7 linked regions of the Homo sapiens genome follow. The protein of the gene in region 1 purifies or fractionates together with the protein of each later gene. This does not show direct contact. Each region holds a gene or a part of one and is shown in the gene's direction. Other genes may lie near its edges.

Evidence for each region.
Region 2: the proteins of KATNIP (region 1) and CEP290 purify together in Homo sapiens (tandem affinity purification; one large-scale study listed by IntAct). This does not show direct contact.
Region 3: the proteins of KATNIP (region 1) and IFT52 purify together in Homo sapiens (tandem affinity purification; one large-scale study listed by IntAct). This does not show direct contact.
Region 4: the proteins of KATNIP (region 1) and KATNB1 purify together in Homo sapiens (tandem affinity purification; one large-scale study listed by IntAct). This does not show direct contact.
Region 5: the proteins of KATNIP (region 1) and OBI1 purify together in Homo sapiens (tandem affinity purification; one large-scale study listed by IntAct). This does not show direct contact.
Region 6: the proteins of KATNIP (region 1) and IFT74 purify together in Homo sapiens (tandem affinity purification; one large-scale study listed by IntAct). This does not show direct contact.
Region 7: the proteins of KATNIP (region 1) and TRAF3IP1 purify together in Homo sapiens (tandem affinity purification; one large-scale study listed by IntAct). This does not show direct contact.

Annotation. Positions count from the first base shown.
Region 1 is NC_000016.10:27,752,644-27,756,143, forward strand, and holds part of KATNIP (katanin-interacting protein), read left to right. Parts: intron 1-1,529; coding exon 1,530-1,608; intron 1,609-3,500. UniProt on the Homo sapiens protein: May influence the stability of microtubules (MT), possibly through interaction with the MT-severing katanin complex.
Region 2 is NC_000012.12:88,079,589-88,083,088, reverse strand, and holds part of CEP290 (centrosomal protein of 290 kDa), read left to right. Parts: coding exon 1-58; intron 59-712; exon of another isoform or gene 713-776; intron 777-2,693; coding exon 2,694-2,907; intron 2,908-3,500. UniProt on the Homo sapiens protein: Involved in early and late steps in cilia formation. Its association with CCP110 is required for inhibition of primary cilia formation by CCP110.
Region 3 is NC_000020.11:43,639,437-43,642,936, forward strand, and holds part of IFT52 (intraflagellar transport protein 52 homolog), read left to right. Parts: intron 1-3,042; coding exon 3,043-3,188; intron 3,189-3,500. UniProt on the Homo sapiens protein: Involved in ciliogenesis as part of a complex involved in intraflagellar transport (IFT), the bi-directional movement of particles required for the assembly, maintenance and functioning of primary cilia. Required for the anterograde transport of IFT88.
Region 4 is NC_000016.10:57,749,270-57,752,769, forward strand, and holds part of KATNB1 (katanin p80 WD40 repeat-containing subunit B1), read left to right. Parts: intron 1-1,557; coding exon 1,558-1,658; intron 1,659-1,991; coding exon 1,992-2,033; intron 2,034-2,371; coding exon 2,372-2,455; intron 2,456-2,670; coding exon 2,671-2,786; intron 2,787-3,260; coding exon 3,261-3,332; intron 3,333-3,500.
Region 5 is NC_000013.11:78,652,656-78,656,155, reverse strand, and holds part of OBI1 (ORC ubiquitin ligase 1), read left to right. Parts: intron 1-3,500. UniProt on the Homo sapiens protein: E3 ubiquitin ligase essential for DNA replication origin activation during S phase.
Region 6 is NC_000009.12:27,050,412-27,053,911, forward strand, and holds part of IFT74 (intraflagellar transport protein 74 homolog), read left to right. Parts: intron 1-3,500. UniProt on the Homo sapiens protein: Component of the intraflagellar transport (IFT) complex B: together with IFT81, forms a tubulin-binding module that specifically mediates transport of tubulin within the cilium. Binds beta-tubulin via its basic region. Required for ciliogenesis.
Region 7 is NC_000002.12:238,327,018-238,330,517, forward strand, and holds part of TRAF3IP1 (TRAF3-interacting protein 1), read left to right. Parts: intron 1-1,668; coding exon 1,669-1,812; intron 1,813-1,908; coding exon 1,909-2,325; intron 2,326-3,500.

The DNA of each region.
Region 1 (3,500 bases):
GGGGCTCAAGCAATCCTACCACCTCAGCCTCCTGAGTAGCTGAGACTACAGTGCATGCCACCATGCCTGGCTAGTTTTTTTTTTATTTTTTGTAGAGATGTGGTCTTGCTATGTTGCCCAGGTTGGTCATGAACTCCTGGACTCAAGCGCTTCTCCCACCTTGGCCTCCCAAAGTGCTGGGATTACAGGCAAGAGCCGCCACACTTAGCCAGATAAACAAATCTTTTAAAATGAAAGATGACCTTCAAGGTCAATTCAAGTCAGGACCAATAGGAAAAAGAGGAGATGGTTAAACAGGGTAGGGGAGAAATGGGGACAACACAAGCCACAAGGGATGGGGCTGGGCTGTGGGAAGGTCATGACTGAGGCAGGACAGCAACATGTCGTGTGGACCCCATGGTGTTCCCTGGGGATTGTACCTCGCAGCCAGGCAGAGCATGGGGTGCAGGAGCAGGGCATGGGGAGGCACAGGCAGCTGGGGAGTGCGTGCCCCTCCCCCTCCCCACATCTAAGGAAAGCGGCCACCAAGAGGGGCAAGCCCATTGTTGCCAGTTCTCCTGATTTTTACAAGAGAAGCCAGAAAGCTGGATTTTTCTGTAAAACCTCTCCATTTAAAAATGCTGGCAGTGAATTCAGATGTGTTCAAACCTTTTTTGGGCCACAAGCCGTGCCTGTGCTCCTGATTCGACCCAGGGGTCTCCAGGTGGGAGTCTACCCTGGGCGCTTCCATTTGCCCAGCGTTTTCCAAATGACAAAGGTGCTCGTAAGGGACTCTGATGGGCCCAGCGCTGTGAGGGGCTGGGGGGATCACTCTCTCAGTCTCGTGAGAGACCAGCGCCTTCACTTATGGTGCAAAGAGACAATGAGCAAATAGTTTATATGTAAGGCCCAAGAAGGGTGTGGTGGCCCACCGTTGACTCTCTGAAGACCAGGATTTTTTATCCTGGCTACCCGTGGAAATCACTTGGGTGGATCTTTAAAAATGTCTGGGCCCCACCCCTAGAGATTCTGCTTCAGTGAACAGCCAAAGTTAAGAGCCACTCTCTATGGTTTGAATTCTTCCACTTCCCCTTCCTTCCTTCCTTCCTTCCCTCCCTCCCTCCCTCCTTCCTTCTTTTCCTCCTTCCCTCCTTCCTTTCCTCCTTCCTTCCTTCCTTCCTCTCTCCCTTCCTTCTCTTCTTCCCTTCCTCCTCCTTTCCTTCCTTCCTTTCTTTCTTCCTCTAGCTCACCACATAAGCATTTATTGAGTCCTTCCCTGTTGGAGGAAATTTAAACACCTTAGCTGTTAGCATCAGGCTCCTCCCCAGCCAGTGAGAGCTGCTGACAAGGATGCAGACCCTGGAGGGTCAGGGTCCGCCCATATCACTGGTCCCATAGCTTCCACAAAGGCAGAAAAATCCAGGAAAACACACAAGGACTTACCTGGGCATAGGGTGGGCAGTGGTAAATGCAGAAACAGCCAGCCAGCTAGCTGTGTGGGTATCACTAAAACCACCCCCTTTTCCTCTGCTTCTCCAACCCATGTGCAGATCCCGGAGCTAGAGCTCCCATCCAGTTCCCCTGTCCCCCAAGTCACCACGCCAGAGCCAGGCATCTACCACGGAATCTGTGAGTAGCTCTCCTGGAGCAGTGTTGGGTGGAAGGAGGACCTTCCAGGGACAGGGGGAGTTGTGGCCACTTGGGACAGGGTTTCGCTGGACAATCGGGTGGGTTGGACACTGTACAGAGACACCAGGCCATGGGGCAAGTGGAGGCTGAAACCAGCCTGCGCTCAGCTCCCTGGCCCTAGCAGGGCCACCTCACTCCAGAGGAGGGGCATCTCTTAGCATTTTGCCTTCCCTGAGGGGCATTTTTGCATGCAGACACCCTATGTGTTAGCTGTGACCATGACCCTGACCCAGGAGGTGTAGTTGGCACCCAGAAAGTGTAGAACAAGAGGACATTAGAGCCTGAAGAGACCCAAGGCATCTGTTGGTGCAGTGCCCCGAGCTGTCTCTTCCAACTCCACCAAAGAGTAGATGCACAGGCAGAGAAAACCTGCATCCACTCTGCCCCGGGGGTGGGGGCAGGTGCACAGGCCCAGGGTACCAGGTCTTCTGACTTTTCAGAAGAAGTCGGAAATCTAGAGTCTTACGTGAAGTCTCCAGATTCTCAAATGTGTGTAACGAATTTTCTCATGTTTTAAAATATCACATGAGCCAAATAAAACACTTATTGTGTATCTGGCCAGCTGGCTGCCAGTTTGTGACTTCTGAGCAAATCCCAGGGGTTTTCTGCTGGGCCTGTTCCTCACCCTTCTTTTCCATTGATCCTTCCAGCCAGTTCCTCTCTTCATCCATGCGTGTCCACATCAGCCCCTCCCCGTCCTGGGGAATCTTCAAGCCCAAGGTCACTGCTGATTGTGATCTCCTCCCTCCTGCACCCTGCTAACCAGGTTCCTGGCAGCCTCACTTCCTGCTCTCTCCTGCCCCCTGTGAATGTGACCCGCTTCTACTTTATCTTCTGAGACAAAAGATGTGACACTGTCAGGATCCCCTCCCCACCTCCCCATCCTCATCTCCAAAATGAAGCTGGAGCCTCTCCGAATCCTGGTGTCAGCCCTTCCGGGACCTCCCCATGCCATCTCTGGAGTCCACCTGCAGGCACCTGTGCAAGCCACACCTTCCACCTAGGATGCCTCCCTGCTCCATCTCTGCCTTCTGACGACCACCTGTCGCTGGCTAGGTTCCCTAGACACAGACCCTGAGATGGAGTTTCCTGGGGTGTGCTCTTGTCAGGGAAGGGTAGGAGGCAGGATTGGGCAGAGGGAGAAGCTGGTCTGCGGTTCAGCCACTTCAAGGCCTCAGCCTGCTCCACAGGGAGCTCGGAACCTGGGATGGCCCTTTGGGGTCATCCTGAGTTGAGTGAGGGGCCATGTCTTTATCTGTATCAACATGGCACTGGCTATGGGCTGCCCCTGGGGAGGGGCATGGCTTTTTATTTTACTTTTTAATTTGTATTTATTTATTTTGACACAGTTTTACTCTGTCGCTCAGGCTGGAATGCAGTGGCATGATCTCAGCTCACTGCAACCTCCGCCTCCCAGGTTCAAGAGAGCTCCTGCCTCAGCCTCCCAAGTAGCTGGGATTACTGGTGCCCACCACCACGCCCGGCTAATTTTTGTAATTTTAATAGAGACAGGGTTTCACCATGTTGGTCAGGCTGGTCTCGAACTCCTGACCTCAGGTGATCCACACACCTTGGCCTCCCAAAGTGCTGAGATTACAGGCATGAGCCACTGTGCCCAGCCGGACATGGCTTTTTGCAAGGAGACTCTCTTCAGCCAAGGGCAGTCACAAGTCAAGAGCCTCAGTGGTGAGCTGCCAGCCGTCAGCACTTCCCGCCACCAGAGGACTAAGTCCTTCTGTTCCTGGGGGTGGGAGGTGGGGTCTGAGCAGTGCCCTAAGTGAGCTCCACATCCCCTCCCTTATGGCCCTTCTGCGACCGCATCTCCTCCCCAG
Region 2 (3,500 bases), on another chromosome or scaffold:
AGAGACAAAGAGAAATCACTGAATTAAAAGTAAAAGAATTTGAAAATATCAAATTACAGTAAGTCTTCGAAATGTATTGTAAAAATAGGCAAATGATAAGTGATATAATGAAGATAAACATAAGTGTTTGCTATGCCAGGCACTGTTCTAAGACTTTTAAGTATATTGTCTCATTTTTATCCTCAGGACTGCTGGTTACATATGTTATCATTTTCCCCATTTTAAAGAGAGGATATGGCCTCAGGAATGCTTAATAGCATGTCTGGGGGTAGATGGGAAAGCCATAATTTGAAACTAGTCAGTCTGACTCAAAAGCCAATACAAATTCTTTTCCAGAATCTCATTTTTACCTTCTTTGAGCCTCAGTTTCATCTTATTTATTTATTTTTATTTTTGAGACAAGGTCTGGCTCTATTTCCTAGGCTGGAGTGCAGTGACATAATCTCAGCTCACTGCAACCTTGACCTTCCAGGCTCAAACCATCTTCCCACCTCAGCCTGCAGAGTAGCTGGCACTACAGGCAGGTGCCACCACACCTGGGTAGTTTTTTTGTATTTTTGTAGAGACAAGGTTTCTCCATGTTGCCCAGGCTGGTCTTGAACTCGTGAGCTCAAGTGATCCGCCCACTTCGGCCTCCCAAAGTGCTGGGATTACAGGCCTGAGCCATTGCACCCAGCCTCATCATCTTTAAAATGGAAATAATAATACTTACCCTGGCCCTTTCAGGGTGGTTATATGAAGGTCAAATTATACCGTGTATGAAAGTAATTTGAAAACTGTAAAATAACATACAGATAGAAAACTTTTGATTACACACTTATAAGAGTGTCTGTCATATAATAGAGATTCTAAACATTGTTCAACCACTTTATCAGAACGTAGATTTTAAACTCAAAATAGGTTTATAGTTAGGTAGTTTCTAATCATTATAATATTATCTCTATGGGCCTAAATTTTATTATCTGAAAAAACATGAGAAAATTGAACTGCTTGACTTATAATTCCATTTCAGCTCTCAAGCCCCTGCTAGAGTCTTTGATTCTTTACTCACTTATTCAAATGCCTCTGACAGAATTAACACTATTTTTGCTTTGCTAAGGAGCTGCCACTGTTAAGAAATTACTCTCTAAAAGAAAGAAAATTGGCAACAGCATATGTGTATTTTCAGTCTCTTTTCCTCACTCTATTAAATTTTGTACAAGAGATGTTATTTTTGGTCTAGTAAATTTCTGTCATGTTTTGGAGTATAAAATTACTTGTGCTTTTGCATCTAATTTGTGGGTGTAGAAAATCATAATCTTTTGAAATACCTTATATAATACATTTTTTTGCCACAGGAAATACTTGAAGTTATTGTTGTGTACCTTACGTCATTTTAGTCCAAAATTATACTTGTGTTCTCTGTGTGCATATTTTGATATGTATTAGGAGATTATGGATCTGTGTGATTTCTTAAGTAAATCCTGATATTTTCACAATTTGATGATGACTCTTTAAAGTTAGACTTAAGTTTTGCCAAAAGCAAGAAGCCTCAAAGAGTAACATTTGTTCATGTCTTAACACTATCTCCCTCTTATTGGTCAGAATCTCAGTATGGATGCAGTGTCCATATGCACAACAATATATTAATTCAGTTTAACAGACTTAATGCTGAATAAGCAATAAGATTAATTGAATTAACTAAATCTTTTGATAGTATCCACTTCCATATATATAGTTATAGATATAATGCTAGTGAATTTGAACCATAAACAAATTAATAATACATGTGATTTCTGTGAAAATTTATATTAGTCTTTTCAATATGTCAATATAGGGCAGTATTTCTCAAATATAGAGGATCAGTTTTTCACCATTGTCCCTCTTGGGGACATTTGGCGATGTCTGGAGACATTTTTGATTGTCATGGCTCGGGGGTGCTACTGGTATCCAGTGGGTAGAATCAAAAGATGCTGCTAAACATCCTATCATGCACAAGGCAGCCCCACCACCAACAAAGAATTATCCAGTCAAAAATGTTACTAGTAGTATGGTTAGGAAACTATCATATAGAGGAAGCAATCACATTTTACAAGAGCCATAATATTTAAAATGCCTTTTTGTTCATTCTCTGTATATTTGACTAGAGTCACAAAATAACTTGATAAGATTGTTGCCAAAAATATTAGAAACTAGAAGAAAAATGTGTTGTTAAGTCTAAGAGTAGTTAAATGAAATAAAGAATTATTCTTCTTTGGATTTGGATGCCTGCATCAAGATTTAGATTGTAAGGATACTTAGGACTGAACATTTGCTCTATATGAAATTTGTATTAATCAAGGTATGAATTGCAGCAACCACTCTATTAATTACATATGTTTGGCCAGGTGTGGTGGCTCACACCTGTAATCCCAGCAATTTGGGATGCCAAAGCGGGCTTATCACCTGAGGTCATGCGTTCAAACTGGCCTGGCCAACATGGTGAAACCCCATCTCTACTAAAAATACAAAAATTAGCTGGGCCTGATGGTGCACGCCCGTAGTCCCAGCTACTCAGGAAGTTGAGGCAAAAAAATCACTTGAATCTGGGAGGCAGAGGTTGCAGTCAGCCGAGATTGCGCTGCTGCACTCCAGCCTGGGTGACAGAGTGAGACTGGGTCTCAAAAAAATTAAAAATTAAAAAACACACACACACATATGTTTATTTACATCAGGCTTCAAGAAAACCATGAAGATGAAGTGAAAAAAGTAAAAGCGGAAGTAGAGGATTTAAAGTATCTTCTGGACCAGTCACAAAAGGAGTCACAGTGTTTAAAATCTGAACTTCAGGCTCAAAAAGAAGCAAATTCAAGAGCTCCAACAACTACAATGAGAAATCTAGTAGAACGGCTAAAGAGCCAATTAGCCTTGAAGGAGAAACAACAGAAAGTAAGTAACAACAGAAAATTATCAACATTTAGGAAAAATATGTGGTAGATTGCTTTTAGAGAAGATTTGTAAATTTATAAAAGATGGTAGTATAAATCTCCGTGTTGTAATAAAAAGTATGAGCTTTATCTTATGCTGTTAAACAAGGTATTTTAGACAATGCTGTTTTTGTGGGCAGATATAGTCCAATTTATCTTTTTATGTTTTCGTCAATCTGATTTGTGAATTATCTATATGAAGTTAGGAAAAATCTTAATGTACATTACAAAAATATAATATATATTACATTGTATTTTCTTTTTTTCTACTGGAATTTTATGCTACTGAGGCTATTTTTAACAAATGAACAATTTTGAACAATTTGAGGGATTGAGGGAAGTATGATAATGACAAAAAGGGATGAAAAAAGGGGGTCATAGAGATGTTTTTGTGAGAAGGAGTTGGTCAGTGTATTCTGATTTATTAGGGTTTTTTTTAGTTTATCTCAGATTTGATCTATTTAAATTGTTTTAGAAGATGCTGGTGTTTTTCTGTGCTAGCTATGAAATTTATGGGTAAACTTTAAGCCTTTCCTAGTCCTTTTGTTGTCTACC
Region 3 (3,500 bases), on another chromosome or scaffold:
AAGGTGGGCAGATCACCTGAGGTTGGGAGTTCAAGACCAGCCTGACCAACATGGAGAAACCCCTTCTCTACTAAAAATACAAAATTAGCTGGGTGTGGTGGCGCATGCCTGTAATCCCAGCTACTGGGGAGGCTGAGGCAGGAGAATCGCTTGAACCCAGGAGTTGGAAGTTGCGGTGAGCCGAGATCGTGTCATTGCACTCCAGCCTGGGCAACAAGAGCGAAACTCCATCTAAAAAAAAAAATTTTTTTAAGTAGCCAGGTGCGGTGACGCATTTCTATATTCCTAGCTACTTGGAAGGCTGAGGTGGGAGGATCACTTGGGCCCAAGAGTTGGAGGCTGCAGTGAGCTATGATACACCTTGCACTCCAGCCTGGGTGACAAAGGACCCTGTTTCTGAAAAATAAATAAATAGAAACAAAATAGAATATTACATACCTGTTAAAAGAAAAATGTAGCCTGGGTGCGATGGCTCACACCTATAATCCCAGCACTTTAGGAGGCTGAGGCAAGAGGATCACTTGAGACCAGCCTGGGCAACACTGTGAGACCTCTTCTCTATAGAAGAATAAACAAAATTAGCCGGGCATGGTGGCTCACTCCTGTAGTACCAGCTACTCAGGAGGCCCAGGTGGGAGGATTGCTTGAGCCTAGGAAGTCAAGGCTGCAGTGAGCTAAGATTGTGCCACTGTCCTCTAACCTGGTTGACAGAGCGAGACCCTGTCTCAGAAAAGAAAAGGCCAGGCGCAGTGGCTCATGCCTGTAATCCCAGCACTTTGGGAGGCCGAGGCAGGTGGATCACAAGGTCAGGAGTTTGAGACCAGCCTGGCCAAGATGGTAAAACCCTGTCTCTACTAAAAATAAAAATAAAAAATTAGCCAGGCATGGTGGCAGGTGCCTGTAATCCCAGCTGCTTGGGAGGCTGAGGCAGGAGAATTGCTTGAATTCGGGAGGTGGAGGTTGCAGTAAGCCAAGATCACGCCACTGTACTCCAGTCTGGGTGACAGAGTGGGACTCCATCTGAAAAAACAAAAAAGAAAATAAAAAAAATGCAGGGCATAAACTTTGATTCGGAATGTCCATAATACATCATTAAATGATGAAGTCAACTTAGAAAACTATTCTAGTTTGATCCCATTTTTGTGAAAACTTACATTTACACACAGAAGCATACATAGCAATAATAATTCTAGGTAGTTGGTGGCAGTAGAACTAGGATGAAACATTGATACAGCTGTGGGTTTGAATGTCTTAGTAAAAAACATACATTTCTATCAAAACTTAAAATGCAAATCAGAGGGAGAATAAATTAATTACAGCTGGGCTCAGTGGCTCATGCCTATAAGCCCAGCACTTTGGGAGGCCAAAGCAGGTGGATTGCTGGAGCTCACGAGTTCGAGACCAGCTTGGGCGACATGGTGAAACCCCGTCTCAAATACAAAAAATCAGCCAGGCGTGGTGGTACACACCTGTAGTCCAAGCTACTTGGGAGGCTGAGGTGGGAGGATGGTTTGAGCCCAGGAGGCAGAAGTTGCAGTGAGCTGAAATCATGCCACTGCACTCCAGCCTGGGTGATAGAGCCAAACCTTGTCTCAAAAAAAAAAAAAAAAAAAAAAAAGGAAGAAAGAAATTACAGTATAATGTGAGAAGGGCAGTAATGGCTGTCTATCCTACATGTAGGGCTCCAGAGGATGGCTTCACAGAGCTATGTTGTTGGTGGAATTATGGGTGATTTTTTTCTTTAATTTTCTTTCTATAATATTGTTTGTTTTTTGGGGTTTTGTTTTGTTTTGTTTTGTTTTGAGACCTAATTTTGCTCTTGTTGCCCAGGCTGGAGTGCAGTGGCACGATCTTGGCTCACCACAGCCTCAGCTCACTGCAACCTCTGCCTCCCGGGTTCAAGCGATTCTCCTGCCTCAGCCTTCCTGAGTAGCTGGGATTATAGGCATGCACCACCACGCCCGGCTAATTTTGTATTTTTAGTAGAGATAGGGTTTCTCCATGTTGGTCAGGCTGGTCTCGAACTCCCGGCCTCAGATGATCCACCTGCCTCAGCCTCCCAAAGTGCTGGGATTACAGATGTGAGCCACCACGTCCCCCAGGCTGGAGTGCAATGGCGTGATCTCAGCTCACTGCAACCTCCGCCTCCCAGGGTTAAGCAATTCTCCTACCTCAGCCTCCCGAGTAGCTGGGATTACAGGTGCGCACCACCATGCCCGGCTAATTTTTTTGTATTTTTAGTAGAGACAGGGTTTCACCATGCTGGCCAGGCTGGTCTCGAACTCCTGACCTCGTGATCCGCTCACCTTGGCCTCCCAAAGTGCTGGGATTACAGGCGTGAGCCTTCACGCTCGGCTGTTTTGTTTTGTTTTGTTTGAGATGGAGTCTGTTCTGTTGCCCGGGGTGGAGTGCAGTGGCGCAATCTCTGTTCACTGCAACCTCCATCTCCCCAGTTGAGGTGATTCTCCTGCCTCAGCCTCCCGAGTAGCTGGGATTACAGGCCTGCATCACCACATCTGGCTAATTTTTGTATTTTTAGTAGAGATGGGGTTTTGCCATGTTGGCCAGGCTGATCTTGAACACCTGACCTCAAGTGATCTACCTGCTTCAGCCTTCCAAATTGCTGGGATTACAGGCATGAGCCACCACGCCCAGCCAATACAATATTGTTTTAGTAAATGCTATTTTTAATTACCCATATGCTTCTCTATAGTCATCTTTGTTGCATTCAGGGAATGATAATTTGATTTCCTACTGTTGCACCTGTTCTTTCTAATGTAGGAATACTAGATCTGAGGAATAGGAAAGCCAGTACCAGTCCAGTTTTATTCTGATTAGGAGTGCTTTTATTATAAAAGCAGCACATTAGAGAGCTCTAGGGTTTTTCAGTGTTGAAATCCTGTAGTCACATTACTTTAGGAAGAGGTGAGTGATCTTAGGAAATGTGGAAACATGACAGGGCATACCTGAAACACACTAAGTCTGTACTTTGGGAAGGGCAGAAGTTAAGAATTAATCTAACTACTACTCCAACTGTCTTAGGTACTGAAGAAGACCTGGAATTTTATGTCAGGAAGTGTGGTGATATTCTTGGAGTAACCAGTAAACTACCAAAGGACCAACAGGATGCCAAACATATCCTTGAGCACGTCTTCTTCCAAGTGGTGGAGTTCAAGAAATTGAACCAGGTACAGAGCCTACAAGGCACAGTGTAGTGGGAGCCCCTCCAGTACTGGTATCTTCCATGGACTGTGCTTGCCATGTTTTATGACGTTGATTCAGCCTGTAAATATTTATTAAGCATCTACTAGGTGAACAAAACAGACAATAAACCCTGTACTTATGGAACCTATATACTAGCTGGAGGATGTAGACAATAAGCAGTAAACATAAGTGAGTCACATAGGATGCTAGAAAATGGTAAGTGCTTTGGTATAAAAGAAGTGGAGGCTGGGCGCAGTGGCTCACGCCTGTAATCCCAACACTTTGGGAGGCTGAGG
Region 4 (3,500 bases), about 30 Mb from region 1:
GCACTTTATGTATGTTTACTCCATTCTGTGACCCAACATGAGGCCCAAAGACAGTAAGTGATTGGCCAGGGTCACACCACCAGTGAGGAGCGGAGCCAAGGCTGATCCCAGTATTGTCTGATGCCAGAGCCCACATCCTGACTTTGGGGGTAGAGAAGATCATACAGTAGAGTTCATTTAATTCACCCAGTGCTTGGATCTTGACTCTGCAGTAAAGTGTTATATATGGAATCTTGAATACCTCCTCTGACAGAGAGCTCACTACCTCACAAGGTGACCTATTGCACCTTGGCTCAAAACTAAGAATGGCTGGACTCCCACATTTCCTGACCCTGGCACTTGGGATGGTCAGTTTCATTCAGATAGTGAATTATGAATCTTTCCAAAAGCAGGAAACATGAGACAAATCTGAGTGGTACTGGAGGACACCCTGAAACACACAAGGTTTGCCTCCAGGCTGGGCCGCTCCTGGCCATGGAGATGCCTGCAAAACCTTCAAGGAAAGGATAGGAGATGTGGTTCCTAGGGCAGTGGGAGGCGATCAGGCCCCACCCCAGGAGTTCTTTGGTCCTCGCGTGTCCTCCCTGTGTCCTCTCAGTTCTCACTGCTCCTCAGTGTGTCCTCACAGCCACCCTCAAGATCCCTTGGACAGAGGTCACCCAAGAAGACTGGTGTGTGCACCAGGGCCACCCCAGCCATGCCCTCCACTTGCCCTTCTTAGGGCCTTTGCCCATCACCTCCATCTACCTAACAGCATCCCTCATCCTCCACCCACTGACATCTACTCAAATACCACCTCCTCCATAAAGCCTTCCTGGATTTCTCTTTCCAACCAAGCAGCTTCTCTCCCAGCTTGAACCTCTCCTGGTCTGTCTCTCTCCTTGCACTGTCTTGGGTGGGGTTCAGTGCCCTGCAAACCATAAGCTCCACACCCATGGGGCCTGAACTGAGTGTGGTGGTTCCCTGGTTCTGCTTCCGCTGGAGCACAGTCTGTGGGGAGAGTGTGGTACAATTTCTGCAGACTTGAGGTAACATAGGGCTGTCACCTCTCAAGAGAAATGTGGGAAAATTAGTTGTTGGCAGGACGCAGTGGCTCACACCTGTAATACCAGCGCTTTGGGAGGCCAAGGCGGGTGGATCACTTGAGGTCAGGAGGCCAGCCCAGCCAACGTGGTGAAAACCTATCTCTACCAAAAATATAAAAAAATTAGCCGGGTGTGGTGGCACATGCTTGTAATCCCAGCTACCTGGGAGGCTGAGGCAGGAGAATTGCTTGAACCCGGGAGGCAGAGGTTGCAGTGAGCCGAGATCACGCCATTGCATTCCAGCCTGGGCGACAGAGCAAGACTCCTTTTCAAAAAAAAGGAAGAAAAGAAAATTCGTTGTTAGGGTGGTGGGACCCTTGATTGTTTCCTACTGTTTTAAAAATGTGTGTTATTGTTCTATTTTTCTGTGCAGCTAATCCAAAAGCGCACACACAAATGCCCACAGCAGCCCTTCCTCTGCCAGCCTTCTCATTTGCCTCTTAGCCACTGTCTCTGCTTTCCTTCTTGTTAGTTCTTCGCACACTCATGGGACACAAAGCCAACATCTGCAGCCTGGATTTCCACCCGTACGGCGAGTTTGTAGCCTCTGGTTCCCAGGACACAAACATCAAGGTGAGAGGCCGGTCCGTGCCCCGTGTCTCCTGCTGGGCCTGTGGCAGGACCAGCCCGGCCCGGCCCTCAGTGCTGGATGCCTGCTGAGGGGACCTCTTCCCTTTCTGCAGCCACATCCACACCATCCTAGGGAAAGCGGGTGGCAGGCATCTATCTGCCAGATGCTTCTGCTCAGAATGCCAGCTTTAGTGAGCAGTTTCTGTCCTTGTCTCCGTGGGGAGTAACGACCTAGAGAAGGCTGGGCCCCACCGTCTGCTCACGACTGCACACCTTCCTCCAGTCGTGGCTCTGACCTCTCCTGACTCTGCCCCTCTGCTTCTCTCTCCCCCACAGCTCTGGGACATCAGGAGGAAAGGCTGTGTCTTCCGATACAGGGTAAGGATGCGCTCTGTCGGTGACTCCATGAGCACCTTGCGGGCATTGAGTGTGGTGTGGTGCCCAGACCCCAGCAGGGGGTGGAGGGGACGGCTGTCCCACATGGGTGATAACATAAAACATAGACCTGGAGCTGAGCAGGAGCGCCATGGGCGGCCCACCTGGATCCCCTGGCTCTGCATGAATCCCCTAGAGCCACGTTCATCAAACTGCTCCAAGCAGAACCAGGCGGGTAACCAGTGTTGTTAGATGGAAGGGGTCCCATAGGAGTGAGGAGGCAGGGAGAGGTCTGTTGGGCCCAGGATCCCAGGGTGAGCTCATGCCGTGTCCTCCCTCAGGGGCACAGCCAGGCCGTGCGGTGTCTCCGGTTCAGCCCCGATGGGAAGTGGTTGGCGTCGGCCGCAGATGACCACACCGTGAAGGTAGCTCCCGGCCTGACCTGGGCCCAGGGGCTGGGGGCTGGGGTCTGCTGATCACAGCAGGCTGAGTCCTCACCTCCCTCCTGATCGGGCTCACATGTCCCAAGCCTATCCCGAGTGGAAGGTAGCTTGTGGATAAAGAGCTTGGCCTGGATTAGAGGGAGGGTGGGCAGCCAAGATGCCTGGTCACCCTGACCTCCTCCCTGCCCTGCCTCCAGCTCTGGGATCTCACTGCCGGCAAGATGATGTCTGAGTTCCCTGGTCACACGGGGCCTGTCAACGTGGTCGAGTTTCACCCCAACGAGTACCTCCTGGCCTCCGGCAGCTCTGACAGGTGAGGAGGAGGAGCGAGGCGAGTTGCTTGTGACTGCTGTCCTTCACCGCCTTGTCCTCTGTGCGTGTCTCTACTGCCGGTCTGTCGCTGTCTGGGGTGTCATACGTCTGATGATCCTGTGTGGACTGAATTGGATTTCAGCCGAGCCAGGACTGGACCCTGGTCCATCTCCCCTGGCTCTGGTTCCCTGGCCCCAGTGTCCCAGGTCTGTGGCTTCATGGGCAGGTTGGGACCCAAGGCATCTAGTGGGACCCCATAGGGCAGGGAGGCTCGTGGCTGTTGGGGCCAACCCTGGGGCCAGGGCCATCGGGCCGAGCCTCCCCCTTGCAAAGTCAGGGCCAGCTCTGCCCCAGATGTTGCTCCTGGTGGCCCTGCCCTGGGGGAGAGGTTTCTAGAGAAAAGCTGGCTTCCCAGGGACATGTGGAGGCCAGGATGAGGGATAGGCTTCGCAGCACAGCTTGGCTGCCTTTGCAGGACAATCCGCTTCTGGGACCTGGAGAAGTTCCAGGTGGTGAGCTGCATCGAAGGGGAGCCTGGGCCCGTCAGGTACGCAGGCTGTGGGGTGGGCGGCCCAGCGCTCCTCCCGGCAGTGGGGCGTGGCTGTGGGTGGGCCTTTCCCATCTCCGCTGCTGCGCCCTCCCTGCCCTGGGCCCTCTGGATTCCTCGGGGTGGGGACCAGGCTGGGTGCCACAGGACCCACGGCCATCTCTCGCC
Region 5 (3,500 bases), on another chromosome or scaffold:
TAACTGTTAGCTTTTACTATAGCCATTGAGGCCAGCCCTCAAACTGAGGAAACCAGCCTTTTCCAGTAATTGTTCTTCCCAGTTGCTTTGTGAGGCTGGAGCACTTCAAAATGAAGATTTGCATTCCCAACCAAATGAGACCTGTTTGTTCTGGAAATTGCCACAGTACATCCAGAATTTTCAGCTGGTTCCATGTCTCTTTTCTTTTTTATAGTGAAAGCAAATTCAGTATGATTGTGCTGCTCACCCTCCTACACGTATTATACTGTGAGATACTAAAACTGGCGTGTCCTCAGGTTCGCTTCTGCTTCCCTGACATAGAGCATCTCTGGCCACTTCTAAGAATGTTCCTAAGGTCCTTCGTGCCTAGCTCTTTTTTAAAGATAATTGTTCTTGTGCTACTGTTACCATATGTCCCCAGATCTCACAGTCAGCATCTTCTCTTTTGATTATTCAACAGAATTAAGGACCATTATCCCTGGAGGGTCACAAGGTGGATACCATGAAGGGGGAGAGATGAGGGCAGGGCATTAAATCTGAAGAGATAGATGCCAGTGGGGATGGAGAGGAAGGAGAGAGAGCCCAGGTATTCACCTGTTAATGCTTTGTCTTTGCACTTAAAATTGGAAAATTTACACCTCTGTCTCTACTTCAGTTTTAAAGGTGAATTTTCTCTACCCAATAATGTTTTTAGTTACTTTGCCAATATTGTAAGTAAGAGCTCTATGTGGCCTGAAGAAGTTAGGTACCATCCCATGGGATGATTTACGCATAACATATTTTCTTACCTATTCTTCCCTGTTTTTTTTTTGTTTGTTTGTTTCTTAAACTAGTGGGCCAGCAAGCAGAAATGTAGTAATGATCTATCCCAGAGTATCTGTTAAGTGACATTTTGATAGTGCCACCAGGCTGTTACAAACCAGTTTACCTCTAGATAATTCCAGGGTTTATCTTTTCAATTGGGACTCAAGCTGTGAAACCAAATTATGGCATGTAATACTTTTTATTGGCCGTGCATGCATTTTGCCATGAGTGAAAGCCAAATGTGGCCCGCAGTTGGTTTTATGAAAGGGTGAAGGAGATTCTCAAGAGAAATGCAAAGCAACTAATGCTTTTCAGCATTAATGTATCATATTCAGTTATTTCTCATTCGACTATGAGTCCAGTTTTGGGTCCTACCCTTTAAGATAAACAATAAACCAGAGTATTTTGAAAACATTTGGGGGAGAATGAAATTGGGATTGGAATGTAGGTGGACTGGAATAGTGCTGGAATGAATGGATATGATAGGGAATCTTTAATTAAAATATTTTTCATTTGGAAGGGACTCAAGCCTTGTGTGGCTCCATAAAATTATGATTTCTACTTAATATTAAGGGCAAGTGTTCTGGCTGAAATAACCAGAAATGAAATCAGCTTCCTTATAATGCAGGAGTTCCTGTGTCTTGGAGTATCCTCTAGTAGACTGACTGTTTCCCATAAGGAATGCTATCAAAAGGATCCCTTCTTTCAGGGATGCCTCTCTTCTTCTCACCCATATTGTTTATTTAAAATATTGAAAATATAGGGCTAGAGACAAAGCCTTATGCAACTTAGAGTCCTCACTCTAGGATGACAAAATTCATTAATCACTGTTCACTTGGAGCTGTTGATTGATCAGCAAGTCATCCACGTCAGTACATGGAGCCCATGTTTGAGTCCTGATTGCCTCTCAGTTCCCAAGAGTGGATTTAAGAACCAGCCTTGTACATAATTGTCATAAGTAATTTGCTTTGAAAAAAAGCCATATGGACTGCAAGTTCTACATTTTTCTCTTTTTTCCAGTTGAAAATAAGTTTGAAGGATTCACTTTCAGAAAAGTATAACAATATTGCATTTTATACATAGTGTATAATAAGTTAATTCAAAAATCGTAGATGTATCCTAGTAATTATCAGGGTTGGTATGTAATAGCTGACATACTTACTTGACAAGTACAATTCCAGTTTATCCCAAAGCATTTCTGGTAGGGATGAAGGTAGAAGAGAAGAGATGTATCATCTCTCCTTTTACCTAGACAGGAATGGGGAACCAGTTCTATAGGCATTAAGTGACTTATTTCACACAGGTTTTTTTTTTTTTTTTTTCCTTAAGTTATAGGACCTAAATTCTGGCCCAGAACCAGGGATTTCTTAAAACATAACCAAGAGCTATCCAGGAATTTTATTTTGGAAAGTTTCCAAATTCCTAATGTTGAAGTAGTGGTGCCCCTACCATAGTCATTTTTACACTGAAGACTAATCCTTTACATAGTCTTTCCAGGTCTTCACTAGAGAAACCGATAAAGTTTTGACAAGGTGCAAGAAAGAATAATATTCTTTCTAGAAGCACAGTTGGCTCTTGTCTCTAGTGAGGGGAGGATGCCAGAAGAGCAGGGGAGTTGGTTTTATAATAGATATAATTGCAAGACCAGTTGGTAAAGTTCATCAATACCGTCTTCACTCCCATCACCTCCATCAGTGTCCAGGATCTCACTTCCTTCAGGCACATCGTCCTGTATTTATTTCTCCCAGATTATTGTTCACTAACCCTGCTCCAAGGAAGAAAGAACTGTTTCTTAGTTGAAAGAACACATGATTTTGCAGTTGAATCACATTGAGTACAAATGCTAGCTCTACCATTTATAACCTGTATCATTATTTCTTAGAGTCTCAGTTTCCACAACTGAAAATGGATTTGATACAACAGCCCCACTAGCTTATTAGTAAGATTCCTTTGACTATACCATACTAGTGGTTCTCAACTAGGTGGAGGTAGATTTTGTCCCCCAGGGACATGGGGCAGTGTGTGGAGACATTTCTCATTGTTTTCAAGGGGCTGCTACTGGCATCTAGTGGGTAGAGCCCAGGGATGCTGCTAGCCAGACATCCTGTAATATGCAGGGAACCGCCTAAAACAAGACTTTCTTCAGTCCAAAATGTTAGTAATGTCAAAGTTGAGAAACGCTGTTTGAAGCCAATGTGTAACTCCTAGTGGGTAAGTCTAGGATGATATGGATATTAATGAACAACAGCCTTAGGCATGTCTCTGCCCAAGTATACTTGCTTTTTTAAGAAAGGGGATTTGGTGGTAGAGTGGACTCTCTTAAGACTGGAACATCTTTAAAAGAAATGAAATATCAGAGTAACAGATTGTAAGGTTAATATATCTGCCCCAAGAACTGCCCCCTCAGGCCCATTCCAGTAAGAAGAGCCCATCCTTTACACCTGGGGGATATACCCTAGGGCAGGAGTCTCCAGTCTCAGTCAGGTACTGTTCAGTCAGTGGCCTATCAGGAACCAGGACTGCACAGCAGAAGGCGAGCAGGGAGTGAGATAGTATTACCACCTGAGCTCTGCCTCCTGTCAGATCAGAGGCAGCATTAGATTTTCATAGGAGCATGAACCCAAATGTGAACTGTGCATGCAAGGGATCTAGATTGTGTGCTCCTTAGGAGAGTCTAATGCCTGATGTTCTGAGGT
Region 6 (3,500 bases), on another chromosome or scaffold:
ATTGGGATGGTGCAGGTGGAGATTAGATACAAATAAACAAAGTTGAGGTTAAAGAGACTAGGATAAGGTCATGTAAAAATTTGTATGGGATCTTTGGTTTATGAACTAATGGCTTCTGTGGGTGTTCTTTATGCTGGTGTGTTGCAGCTTTGAATTAGCTATGTTTTTGTCTACCTGGAATTACTACAGTTAGTGAGATAGTGAGAAATGAAGACCTAATTAATATTTGCTAACTTAAGAATGTTGAAAGATTTTTGGGTGGGAATTGAACAATGAGAACACTTGGACACAGGAAGGGGGACATCACACACCGGGGCCTGTTTTGGGGTGGGGGGAGGGAGGAGGGATAGCATTAGGAGGTATACCTAATGTAAATGACGAGTTAATGGGTGCAGCACACCAGCATGGCACATGTATACATATGTAACAAACCTGCACGTTGTGCACATGTACCCTAGAACTTAAAGTATAATAATATATATATATAAAAGATTTTTGAAATGAAATAATGATCCATAATACCTTTATCTGGATTCCCAAAATCTAAAAAGATATTGGCAGCAAAACCTGACCTGACCTGAACTGACGTGAGGCTATTTATAGTTTTTAATTATCCTACCTAGTGTGACTATTTATGCTTTTTGCTATAGAAATATTCGTGTACTTGATGACAAGGTATTCCCTCAGACTTTGCCATGGGAGTTATGTAATCATAAGTATATGTGCTGTATTACTTTTCTAAAATCCAAAGAATTCTGCATTCTGAAATAGAACTGCCCAAGGGTTTTAGATAAGGGATTATGGACCTATAAATGCATACTGAATGCTATTAATTGCATTAGTAGTGGTGATATAGGTATATAATTGCTATATTTAAGCCTATTTTATATCCAGATTTGTTGAGAGTTTGTTTGCCGTAGTTTTTTTTTGTATGTCTATATGCCAAGTAACTGGAGGAGTTACATTCTTGATATATAACTACTGTTGGTTTGACTGTGAGTATATTTTTATTGTGGTAAAAAAACACATAACAAAATTTATCATCTTAACCATTTTGAAGTATACAGTACAGTAGTGTTAACTATATGCACATTGTTGTGCCACGAATCTCTAGAACTTTTTCATCTTGCAGAACAAAAACACTTTACCTCCTGAATAACAACTCCATATTTCCCTATCCCCTGACCCCTGGAGACCACCGTTCTACTTCTGTTTCTATGAGTCTGACTACTTTAAATTACCTCATATAAATGAAGTCATACAGTATTTGTCCTTTTGGGACTGACTTAGTTCACTTAGCGTAATGTCCTTAAGGTTCATCCATGTTGTAGCAAAGAAGGATTTTCTTTTTTAAGGTTGAAACATTCTATTGCATGTATATATCATATTTTAAAGTCTATCTGTAGACAGACAGATTGCTTCCACCTTTTAGCTATTGTGAATAATGCTGCAGTGAACATGGGTGTGTAAGTATTTCTTCAGGATCCTATTTTCATTTCTTTTGGACATATATGAATATTTAAGAATATTTTCTCTTTTCTATAAACTAAATAATTTTATAGTTTTATTTCATTTAGAAAACCTCTGTTTCGTATTTTAGACCTTCATGCCTAAGTTTTTCATTTATCTAAAGTCAATGTAAATTCAACAAGTTTTTCCCCCTTTAAGCTATCTTTCTGTAACAGCTGTCAAGAAATGTACATTTTTTAAAAGGCAAAAATCAATACCAGGAAACAAATTCAATAATCAAGACTTTGTATTCATTCCGTACTTTATACTTTGTGTTTATAATTCCTTTTAACAACTAGTCATTATGGGCCAGGGGAGGTGGCTCACGCCTGTAATCCCACCACTTTGGGAGGCCAAGGCGGGCGGATCATCTGAGGTCACGAGTTCAAGAGCTGCCTGACCAACATGGTAAAACCCCATCTCTACTAAAAATACAAAATTAGCCTGTGTGGTGGTGCAAGCCTGTAATCCTAGCTACTCAGGAGGCTGAGGCCGAAGAATCACTTGGACCCGGGAGGTGGAGGTTGCAGTGAGCCGAGATCGCGCCATTGCACTCCAGCCTGGGCAACAGAGTGAAAATCTATCTCAAAAAAAAAAAAAAAAAAAAAAAGTAGTCATTATGTGTTCTCCTGAGATGTACAGTTTGAAAAAAAATTGAAAACTGGCTTCAATGGAGATAAAAATCCAGTTTAATAGTATGATAAGGATTTTGCTGGAAATTTTTCTTTGTAAGGGTTAAATTCTTTGATGCTTATAATTAATTTCATTTACTACATTGTTTTCATTTTAACTTCAACCAACCATATAATTTATTCTTTCTTTCCTTCCCTAACACCATCCCCCACCTCAAGAAATTTTTTTGTATCTTCAAAACACCATGAGAGGTTTATAATATTCTTGTTCGCCTTTCAGATAGAATGGATTTAGTGTACTCCATGTTGTTGTTGTTGTTGTTGTTGTTTGAGACGGAGTCTCACTGTCGCCCAGGCTGGAGTGCAGTGGCGCGATTTTGGCTCACTGCAGGCTCCGCCCCCAGGGGTTCACGCCATTCTCCTGCCTCAGCCTCCCGAGTAGCTGGGACTACAGGCACCCACCACCTCGCCCGGCTAATTTTTTGTATTTTTAGTAGAGACGGGGTTTCACCGTGTTAGCCAGGATGGCCTCGATCTCCTGACCTCGTGATCCGCCCGCCTCGGCCTCCCAAAATGCTGGGATTACAGGCGTGAGCACCGCGCCTGGCCTTTTTTTTTTTTTTTTTTTTTTTTTTAATGGAGCAATCACTTCTTGGGGGAAGGGTGAAGAAAACTTAGATATTATAATGGCCCTCCAGAGGTCACCATACCTAAATGGCTACACACCACATGGGTGATGTAAAAATTTCAGGGGAGGGAGGTGATTGGGGAAAAAGAGTCTGTAATCGACTTCTTAGGGAATCAATAATGTAAGAAAAAGGTTGAGAAACACTGGTGTACTGCATGGGCAAAGAGGCAAGGGATTTATGAGCAATATTTTTTATTTATATTTTTGGAAAGGAAACTCCAGAGAGTAAACAAATGTGCTGATGACAGACTATCTTAGAAACACTTCCCCGGGTCAAAGTGGTTCCTTCTGAGATTTTGCTCCTATGTACACACTGCTTGGTAAACTTTGCAACTTCACGGCATATCAGAAGGAACTAGACTGCATCCTCTTCCTGTCTCTTCCCTTGGAGTAGCATTTAGCTTTTCATTGCGGACCTGTTGTTAAAGGAAGATAAACTTTACCCTATACCAGCCATTTTCTCCTTTTATCAAGAAAAATCAATTTGTATGGTTCTTAAATGTATTTCCCTAGTATATATTCAAATTAAACTTGCAGTTAGATTTATATCAGTGTTTACTCCAAATAGTCAAAATATCTACAGGCTAAAAACAGTTCCTATTTCGAGCATTAAAATAGCATAAGCCTTAGTCACTTGTTCAGCTCTTTGATTCTCATAACTATTTCTAACC
Region 7 (3,500 bases), on another chromosome or scaffold:
AGTAGCCTCGGGTCTGGGCCAGCTCCATGGCACAGCTTGTGAGGCTCCTAGAGACCTGCTGCTACTTCTCTCCCTTCAGATCCTTCTCTCGTTTCCCATATCTGAGCCCTCCATTCCAGTCGCCACGCACCCCTGCATTCGGCCCTGGCCGGCTGTCTCCCGTCGGCCTCTTGCCCTGGTGCCTGCTGGCTTCTTGGTACCTGAGCTGCCTTCCTCCTCCAGCCTCACCCAGCAACAATGTGGCGTCTGTGAGTGCTTCCTTGAGCCTGGGCCTCTCCTCCCTCCCAGGCTGACTTAGGTGCCCCTGTAGGCTTCCTATAGGCTGTTGTTTAATTGTTGTGTTTATCTGTGTCCCCAGTACACGGTGTGTCTTTGGCCTAAATGGAGCCTGGCACGCGGCAATCACGCAGCATGTGCTTGTGGAATGAGTGCGTGAGTCAGTGGGACTCCTGACTGAGGTGTCCTGCACTCTGGATGGCTGTCGGGGATGCTGGAGAAGGAATTTTTGCGTTTGATGGGGCTTGAATCAGATCAGTGGTTTTTTACCCATAATTTTATTATTGTGTTAAAGTCCATAAAACATAAAATTTGCCATCTTAACCATGTTGAAGTGTACACTTCAGTGCTGGTAAATTCATTCATCTGCAGCCATCACCACCTTCCATCTCCAGGACTCTTCTCCTTGCAAAACAGACTCTGTCCCCATGAAACACTAACTTCCTCTTCTCCCGTACCCCAGCCCCTGGCACCCTCCATTCTACTTTCTGTCTCTATGAATCTGACTACTCTAGGGACCTCGGATAAGTGGGGTCATAGAGTGTTTGTCATTTTTTTGACTGGCTTATTTCACTTAATATAATGTTCTCAAGGTTTATCCATGTTGTGGCATGTATCAGAATTTCATCGCTTTTTAGGGCTGAATAATATTCCATTGTAATGGATATACCATATTTTGTTTATCCACTCAACTGTCAATGGTACAGTTTGCTCCCACATTTTAGCTATTATGAATAATACTGCTATGAACATGGGTATACAAATATCTCTTCAAGACCCCGTTTTCTATTTTTTTGGATAAATACCCAGAAGGGGAATTATTGGGTCATATGGTAAATCTGTGCCTAATTTTTTGAGGAGCTGTTATACTATTTTCCATAATGGCTGCATCATTTTACATTTCCACCAACAGTGCATGAGAGCTTCAATTTCTCCTTATCCTTGCCAATGCTTGTGGTTTTGTGTGTTTTTTTTTAGGAGCAGCCATCCTAATGGGTGTGAGGTGGTTAGATAAAATCTTAAGGCACTTATGGCTGGGATTCTATGATCCCATTAGAAGTTTAAGGTATTTGTAGTAGAGTTGCATGGGTCAGCTTTATTAACCTTGAACACACACATTCACATTTGACAGCTTGGGTAGACTTGAACCAGGATTCATTTAGCTTGGGTGGACGCTACTGTTAGTGACCAAAGTGCTGAAAGTAATAGTTATCAAGATATGCTGTGCTTTGTATGTGATAATAACATGTTCAAAAAATATTTTATCCTTTGAATTTCATTGTAGACAGAGAATCTGTCTCATGAGCTATCTTTGAATGGCGATGTTCTATTTGTTACGTGTGCGGATCTCATTTCACCTAACACCTCATTTCCTTCCATTTGGACGACAAGCTCTCTAGTGACGATGCGGTGCGGAGGGTTTTAGCTGGAGAGAAGGGAGAAGTGAAAGGCCGGGCCTCACTGACCTCAAGATCTCAGGAATTGGATAATAAGAATGTGCGAGAAGAAGAGTCCAGAGTTCACAAAAATACAGAGGTGAATTCCAAGTCGCACATCTTTGAAAATGAAATAGTGAGTCTTTTTGTAGTTTAGGTAAAAATATTCATAAATGATTTTATTTTTATTTCGTAGGATAGAGGAGACGCTGAAATAAAAGAGAGAAGTACAAGCAGAGATCGAAAACAGAAGGAAGAATTGAAAGAAGACCGCAAGCCAAGAGAAAAGGACAAGGACAAGGAGAAGGCCAAGGAGAATGGCGGAAACAGACACAGAGAAGGGGAGAGAGAGAGAGCCAAAGCCCGGGCCAGGCCAGACAACGAGCGACAGAAAGACAGAGGCAACAGGGAGCGGGACAGAGACTCCGAGCGCAAGAAGGAGACAGAGAGAAAGAGTGAGGGGGGGAAAGAGAAGGAGAGACTGAGAGACAGGGACCGAGAGCGCGACCGGGACAAAGGGAAGGACAGGGACAGACGGAGAGTGAAAAACGGGGAGCACTCCTGGGACCTGGACAGGGAGAAGAACAGAGAGCATGACAAACCTGAGAAAAAGGTAAAGTCTTGCTGAGAACCTCGCCTTTTGCTTAGCAAGAGTTTGTGGTGGTCTCAAACATGATTTTTACCTTTCTTACAATATGACTAGGAAACTGGTTTTCTTTTATGCCTATTTAAAATGATGACAATCTTGGATTCTCAATAGAAACCCAAAGAGATACTTATTTCTTGTCAGTTGTGTTTTGGGTTTTTTTGTTCATCCCCTAATAGAAGTTTATTGTTCAGCCAATCATTTATTAAGGCATTATTCAGTGAGTTTTTAACCATTTCCTACTTCATGTCCAGGGAGAATTCTGCTGGATTATAAGCTCCCTAAGAGCAAAAGCTAGAGATTTCACTCATGTTCACTGTTGGATGCCCAGTCTGATAGAGTGTCTGACACATAGCAGCTTTGCAGTAAATATTTGGTGGTGGAATGGATTGAGCATCCAGGCAAGGGGTGATGGGCTTTTCAGATCATGAAACACTGGATGGAATTGATCAATTGATGGTGGTTTCTGAGGTCTCCCTTTATGGAATTTTGATCTGGGAGTGGTAGAAGATAATTTGAAGGGGGATGTCAGGAAAATATTAAATGCTTGCTCTTTTTAGGGTTTAATGATTCCCCACCAGGCATGTAGAGAAATCAACGTTTTTCAGAGTTTGAGCTGATTTGCCAAGTTGCTCTTGTCCTTGTCTTGCAGGTGTTTTAAGATGTGTTGCTTCTCCCGTGCGTGTCGTTTGTGTCATTTGTGTCACTCTCAGTATTGCTCTGAAGGCTTTGGAGCAGCCTCCACCTTAGCATTGCAAGCGGTGTTTATGCGCAGTCTGAGTTGTGCATGTGGTGTCTTTAGGAGCATGGACATTGCTCAGTTATTAAGGATTAGGGCTGCTTTCAAGGGCTTTTAGGCATCAGCAGATAAGTACAATAAGACCTGAGTTTACTGTAATTATTGTTTAATTAAATTTTCAGGTAAATTTAGGGTTTGCCAGGAAGTCCTGTTGGTTTCAAACTGTTTTCTCAATGTGTGAATTCTTTCTGGACCCACCATGTGTGTTGGGGACGTTTTCCCAGACACCCAGACACGCATTCTTTGGGGGATGTCAAATTGTAAAGCATCCCGCGAAGATGTTGGAAATCATCTTGTCTCCAGCTGCTAGGAAGGAGGACACTGAGGTCGGGAAGGGATCCAG